Linked DNA regions of Homo sapiens. The protein of the gene in region 2 interacts with the protein of the main gene of each other region in a pairwise test. Each region holds a gene or a part of one and is shown on either strand. Other genes may lie near its edges. The genes, in order: SLC16A2 and UPK1B.

The links.
Region 1: the proteins of UPK1B (region 2) and SLC16A2 interact in a two-hybrid assay, tested with the Homo sapiens proteins (one large-scale study listed by BioGRID).

The regions. Positions count from the first base shown.
Region 1 is NC_000023.11:74,518,952-74,522,773, reverse strand, and holds part of SLC16A2 (monocarboxylate transporter 8), read right to left. Parts: intron 1,785-3,822; coding exon 1,640-1,784; intron 1-1,639. UniProt on the Homo sapiens protein: Specific thyroid hormone transmembrane transporter, that mediates both uptake and efflux of thyroid hormones across the cell membrane independently of pH or a Na(+) gradient.
Region 2 is NC_000003.12:119,193,928-119,197,749, reverse strand, and holds part of UPK1B (uroplakin-1b), read right to left. Parts: intron 3,532-3,822; coding exon 3,352-3,531; intron 1-3,351. UniProt on the Homo sapiens protein: Component of the asymmetric unit membrane (AUM); a highly specialized biomembrane elaborated by terminally differentiated urothelial cells.

The DNA.
Region 1 (3,822 bases), on a different chromosome or scaffold from region 2:
AGAGAAGAAGGTTAGGGGCTAGAGAACAGAACGCCTACTCCAATGTGCCTACAGTAGCGTGCCAGAAGAAAACACCACATCTGAGCTCCTTCCCCTCCTGTAATTGAGCCCATGTGGATTGGAAGGGAAATGGAATCCATATGTTGCTAATCCGTTTACACTTTGCTCTGCTCGGTCTTAAAAAACAGACCTTTGCTGTATAGTGCTGAGACTGGAGCTGCTTTTGAAGCCTAGCTCCTCCCCACAAGGAGCCAGGCACCAGCTTGCTGGGGGTGAATGAGGCTGACCACCAGAGGGGTTCTGAAAAGGTTTGGAGCTGCTGCCCTGGGAGTGCTGAGTAGTTTCCAGGCAGGACACGGTTTTTCCCTTCTCTGTCCCAGTTGGACAGGACGAAGCCAAGAAATGACTGCAGGCCAAATCCAAGCTCTGCTGTAGGGTAGGCTGGGCAGCTGGAAATGCTCAAGTCATAAAGAAAGCTGGCTTACCTCACAGGGCCCAGTTAAGGCAAAACACAATTATCATTCTCTACTGTGAGTGGAACCTTAGGCCTAGAGAGCCATGACGCTTTTCTGGGTAACTAAGCTCAGAAAGCAAGTCTCTGACAAATTAGCTCTGACCTCATCCCAGACATGTCACCACGGCCATTTCTCATTTCTGTGTTTCCAGGCTGGCATTCCCCTACATCGGCCCAAGCAGATTGGAAGTAGGAGGTACCATAACTTCCAAAGTGTCTTTGGCAGAAAGTCAACAGAGTTCTTTAGGAATTCCATATTCCTCAGGCTGTGGTTAGGGTATTTATTCTCCCTTACCCTACACACATTCTTCTGCAGGGCTGGCAGAAAAGAAAGCAGAAAATGAACCTAGAGCCTGCTTCTCACCTGATACTGCCAAGTTCTGCCAGTGGAACCAGTGGGACTAGGGTTTCAGTTTAGCCCAGGCCTAGCTGGGTAGCTGGGTTCTGGGTTTGTATCTCAGTAAGGGATATTGCTAATCATCCTTCTGATGCCCATGATGTAAATCATTATCTGTCCCAAATCATCCATATGTCAGCAGCCTGAGCTATCTGGAAAAGAGTCAGAAATGCTAAACATCCTTGGGCTCAGTTGACCTCTTTTTTCAGCATAAGATTCCTTTGGGAATCCTGTGCTAGGTGTTCACATGGGCTCACTCGAGAAGCTCAATCTTGGGATGGAAAGTGAGGTTGTGAGATGTGTGGCACACTGAAGGGGAATCAAATAGCAGAGTTGAAAGAGATGTAAAAAGACCATATGGTCAAATCCCCTCATGTTACAGATATAGAAATTGAGGCACAGAGAGAACAATGGTACTCATCAATTGTTCCATTGCCATTCAGTGGCCAAAACCGGACTTGGGCCCAGCTCTACGAACTACCAGGCTTAGAGTACTCCTACCACTTTGGAACTCTTAGGTCCTCTCTGGGGATATTCCCTACCAATGTGTCCTGGGGACCCTACCCAGATGAATTCACTGGATTCTGAATCCAGGGTGCAGGATCTTTGAGGGCCCTACAGGGCCATGGCCACAGGGGATTCTGCAGTGAGAAAAGTAACCCTAGCTAAAGCCCAGAAAAAAACCAACCCTCAGCCTTGGGGAAATAACCACCAACTCTTAGCCTTACCTGGTGAAGGAGCTGGTATGGAGGCCAATGAAAGCAACGGCAGCCCCCGCGGTTGCTGTGATTCGGCAGCCCAAACGGTCAGTGAATATACTCACAATGGGAGAACAGAAGAAGATCATACCCATCGCGAGGGCTCCGACCCATGCTGCAGAGAAAACAAGTGCAAAGACACTTTAGCTTAGTGTAGTGCCTGGTGGTACTGCTGGTATCTCAGCTCTTCTTCTCTGGCCTTTCACAGGGGGCATTGCATTGGTCTGCATTGCCAGCTTGCTAGTCCCTGATGTTCAGAGAGTTTTGCAAGAAGAGACTAGATATAAAACAGGGGATTCTATCACTGCGGTAAGATTTGGACTAGTCAATATTTCAGGCCTTTCCAGGGATGCTAAGCCAGATCTATAGCCTTAGGTTCTAAGCCACTGGCTTCAGGGGCAAAAAACATTGGGGTTAAGCTTTCAGGAGCTAAGGTCAGGCTTGTCTCCAGCATTAGAAGAACCCTGTGAAGACGATAAGACTAAGGAGTAGAGAAGGCCACAGACAAAAGCCCCCTGGAATTGTACTAGGATACAAGGCAAGTTCATAGGCCACCTAAAGATTTCTAAGGACACTGTGCAAGAGTCATGTAACCCTCATGCTGAAATCCGTCATCAGAGCCCATGTTTGGCAAATTCCTGACTTCAAACTCAAGCAGATATTATCCTGTTTCTAAAGGCTCTTAAGTGTCTATAACAATCCTCACTAAGGAGGAAGGAACTTGCCCTTTTATTTAGATTCTTCCAGACTGTTTCCCTTTGCTCAGCCCTCAGAAGGAAAGTTCAAGCTTTTTTTTTTATTTCGTCTGAAGGCTGTTATCAAGTTTCATCTTGAGCCTCTCTTTTCTCCGCCAAATAATCTTCGTTTCCTTAACTTTTCCTCTTAGCTTTAATTTCTAACTCTGAAATTAATTTCAGAACTCTCCTTTGAACACTTCCAGCTCTTCATCATCATCATCAAAGAGTGACACATGAGCTAGGCACTGGGCCAACTTCTGGCTCTCTCCAATTGTGGAGCCCCAATGGGCCAAAGGAGCTCAGTCTGGGGCTAGTCAACTGGCTGTGTCTCTTACCTCAGTGCCAAATAGGTTGCTCAGCTCCCCATTGGGAATCTTTACTTTGTTGGAGCCTTACCCTGAGCCCTCTCTGCCTGGCTTCAAAAGTACTAGCCTGGGACAGCAGGAGACCTTAACTTTTTATCACAATTTCACCTCTTACCTTGCCATTTCATCTCCTATCAGCTGTGAGATCTTGAGAAGTCACACAGCATTTCTCTAATCCTCAGTTTTCTCATCTGTGAAATGGAGATTAAAATTTCTGCTTGTGCCTGCCTCAAACATTTCTTTTTCTTTTTCTTTCTTTCGTTTTTTTTTTGTTTTTTTTTTTTTTTGAGACACAGTCTTGCTTTGTCACCCAGGCTGGAATGCAATGGCCCGATCTTGCCTCACTGCAAGCTCCGCCTCCTGGGTTCACACCATTCTCCTGCCTCAGCCTCCTGAGTAGCTGGGACTACAGGTGCCTGCCACCACGCCCGGCTAATTTTTTTGTGTGTTTTTAGTAGAGACGGGGTTTCACTGTGTTAGCCAGGATGGTCTCGATCTCCTGACCTTGTGATCCGCTGATGATCAGGGCCAGGCGTGGTGGCTCACGCCTGTAATCCCAGCACTTTGGGAGGCCAGGGCAGGCAGATCACGAGGTCAGGAGATAGAGACCATCCTGGCTAACACAGTGAAACCCCGTCTCTACTCAAAATACAAAAAATTAGCTGGGTGTGGGGGCGGGCGCCTGTAGTTCCAGCTACTAGCGAGGCTGAGGCAGGAGAATCGCTTGAACCCAAGAGGCGGAGCTTGCAGTGAGCCGAGATCTCACCACTGCGCTCCAGGCTGGGTGACAGAGTGAGACTCCATCTAAAGAAAAAAAAAAAATCAGATAAAATTATATGTATAAGAAGAGAACTTTGTAAATATCAATAATCACATCATGTTTAAAAATCAATGCAAAATGGATCATAGACTTAATGTAAAACTTAAAACTATAAAACTTCTAGAAGAACATATAGGAGACAAATCTTCCTGGCCTTTGGTTAGGCAAAGATTTTGCAGATATTCACAAATCGTATGATCCATAAAAGAAAAGATTTGATATATTAGACTT
Region 2 (3,822 bases):
TATTTGTTTGGTAACATGTTTATTTTCTGTCTCCCATGCTAGAATGCAAGCTCCATGAGGGCAGGGATTTTATGTTGTTCACTGTTGAATTTCTAGAACCTAGAACAAGTGCTTGGCACATAGTAGACACGTAATAAACATTTACAGAATGAATGGAACATTAATGTTTACAATAGTATAATTTGCAACACACTTGATGGTTCACAAAACACTCCCATATCTGCTACTCCTTGGTCCTCCCAACAATCCTGGGAGGTGGTCGTTCATCTAATAATATATATATAAGGGCCCACTTATGCCAGGTGCCAAGTACTGGCTGGGCATTTAGCTGTGGCAAACAGAAATGGGCCTTGCCTTCATGAAGCTCACAGACAGAAGCCCCATTTTTTTCACCATCATTTAGTGCCTTTTCGTGATGCTAGTCAATTTAGTGGTACTTTACTTGATCTTCCTTCATTTTATTATAACATTTTTGAGGTATAGTGATCACAATTTGCACATAGCATTTCTGAGTCACATAAACCATAACATAGAATATATATATATTTGCATCTGACATGCTGTGTGAAATTCTAGTTAATTTCTACTATTAACAAGCTTATAGTGACTTCCCTAATTTTGTTAGTCTTCACAGCTATAGCAGCACATTTGTGCATTGTAGATCCTGAAAACCTACAATATGGTTGTCAAAAAGTGAAGCCTGGGCAACACAGTGAGACCTCATCTCTACAAAAAATAAAATTAGCCAGGCCTGGTGGTACATGCCTGTAGTTAGTTGGGAGGCTGAGGTGGAAAGGAGGATCACTCGAGCCCAGGAGCTTGAGGCTGCAATAAGCTGTGATTGCAGCATGGCACTCCAGCTTGGGTGACAGAGTGAGACCCTGTCTCTCAAACAAAACAAAACAAAAACCAGGCTGGGCACGGTGGCTCACTCCTTTAATCCCAGCACTTTGGGAGGCTGAGGTGGGTGGATCACAAGGTCAAGAGATCGAGACCATCCTGGCCAACATGGTGAAACCCCATCTCTACTAAAAATACAAAAATTAGCTGGGTGTGGTTGCGTGCACCTGTAGTCCCAGCTACTTGGGAGGCTGAGGCAGGAGAATCACTTGAACCTGGGAGGTGGAGGTTGCAGTGAGCCGAGATAGCGCCACTGCACTCCAGCCTGGCGACAGAGTGAGACAGGCTCCATCTCAAAAAAAAAAAAAAAAAAAGAAAAAGAAAAACCATTCACTATTCACTTCTTTATTCACCCATCTATCAAACGTCGGTGCTTGCTTTGTGCCAGGCATTATGCTAAGTACTAAAAATATCAAATCTGTAGAATCAAATAATACATAGTCCTCAAGGAGACTCAGAAAAAATAGACTTGGGAACAAATATAGTTCCAGGTAGTGAATGCAATAATAGAAATAAAGTATACCAGGTCTTGGGGTAGCACCTTTTTCTTGGTGGAAAAGGATGGCAAGAGGGGACTTAGCAAGACCTATGAGTCAGGGAGAATGGTGGTGTGTGGGAATCTGGGAGGCTGGGCTAGGGAGAATCAGAAAGGACTAATAGATAAGAGATTATGTCAAAGGAGCAGAATGAGTGAGGTTGAGAAACAAGGAGCACAGGAAGTCAGGAACAGAGAGAGGAATTTCAGAATTCAGGAATTTGGTGGAGGAGTAGGGCTGAGTGATGATGAATTTGTAGTTGGTAGGTAGTGGAGGTGGAGTTGTTAGAACAGATAAAGCCAGGGAACTGTAGGGTAGTGGAGGTGGAATTGTTAGAACAGATGAGGCCAGGGAACTGTAAGGGAACGTGTTAGAAGCATTGTCAAAATGGGTGTGGAGGTCCCAAGGTAGAGGAAAATAGTTCATTTGTATCTTTTCCTCAATTTCTCATCTATCTAAACTTGAGAAAAGCTTCAGGTTTGTCCTCATAACTAAAATATTATATGTGCTAGGAAAAAAGGTATAACTATGAAATAAACTGGTTATCTGAAGACAAATGTCCTATTTTTATCCCTTTCAAAGAGGTAATACAGTTTGTACACAATTACAATCCAATCAAGATTTGTTTGCATGAGCAGTTCCAGTGTTGAAATATCAAAAGCCTTTTATAGTCCTGAGAATAATTATATTGTACACCTTGATTATAAGCAGCAAATTTAATTTTTAATAACAGTCTGAATATAATTGATTAAAACAATGCCAGACAATGTTGCAGTAAAGCTCAATGAGGGTTGCTCTGGACACTGCTGCAAAATAATCTAGAACACTCCCATGCCCTTTTCTGGAATAATGCATCCAGTTCTAGTCCAGGCACCCTGTCAGCAACAGTGCCATGTCCCTCAATCTGAACATGCAGTTTGTACTGCTCCCAAACAAAACAGCCTGACATTTCTCAATTATTTAATGAGCTGGTACACAACTAGCTTTCCTTAAAGAGGTAACTCCCTGAGCAGAGCACAGCGTTTCAGTGTACAGGGTCAGCAGATGCTGACTACAAGTACCTGGAGGTTCTCATCAGGGCTTTTGGGGAATATTAACAAGTCTTCACTGGCTTAGAGTCTGTGCTTGAAGGCAGAAAACTCATGTTTCAAAAGCCAGAGAGTTTTTTGAAAAGACGGACATTTACTAGTTGTGTGACCTCAGCAAGGTATTTATTAGTATCTCTACGTCTAAGTTCTTCGTTTGTAAAACAGGGATCCTACTGGCACCTACTACTGAGCATTAAAGGAGATAGTGTATGTGTGGCACTGGAAACAGTGTTTGGCATTTAGTAAGTACACAATAAATGTTAGTTTTCATGATCGTAATCACATTATCCTCATCAGCCTGGAAACTTTTTCAAAAACTATCTGTATGTAAACTACCTTCCATCCAAATCACCAACCTAATGTTTATTAAGACTGTCCTACTTTACCATTGAATAAGGAATGTGGATGTGTAATTACTACATTTATCCTCAGCAATAGTCATTGCTTTGGAATTGGCAAAACATTCTTTTTGCACATCATCCCTTCCAATTTACATTTTGCAAAACTAGAGCAAAACTTTGTTTAATGTAAATATTTCTTGACATACCAATTCCATACATTGTGCAAATTGTCTTCATTTAAACAAAGTTGGGTTCTGCTATTGCAATTCTCATGTTTTGTTAATTTTATTAAAATGTAAATTTGCCCCTATCAGTCCTGGTTTAGCATTTGCAGTTTATTAACAGAGAAGGAAATAGTTAACATGAGGTTTAGGGAAAAGAATGTAGAATTCCTTACTGAAAGACTATTTCCTACAGTTGACCAATATTTTTCTCATAAAGAGCAGCAGAACCTCCTGGGAAGTCTTGGGAGGAGAGAGGACTCACCTGATTGTGATAAAAACCAGGCACGCCTAGTTTACAAGCCTCCAGGTTGAGAGGTTCTTTAAGATTGTTCATAACACAGCATTGACGAGGCCAGGGATAGTCAGCATCATTATTCTCAGTCCGGAAGGCAGATGTGTATTTTTGCCAGTCTGATGGACCATTTACGCCACAGCAATTGTCCTGTCAGCAGATGAGAGATACAAAATTCTCTTTCGTGGTCCCTACTAGAGCCATCAATGTAGCAACTGAAATTTTATAGAGAAAGAAGATACGGAAAGTGTACCATATCTTACATTTACTAAGAAATCCCCAAATGACAGCTGAAGGTATTGATAACTTACAACTTACATTTTACAGTTTGTAAAAGAATTTTTACACTTCCTACTTTACTAGTCATTAGTGAACCCTGTAGCCATTGACATGTTACTTAAACTGTCTAAGCCTCAGTTTCCTTAACTGTAAAATTGGAAT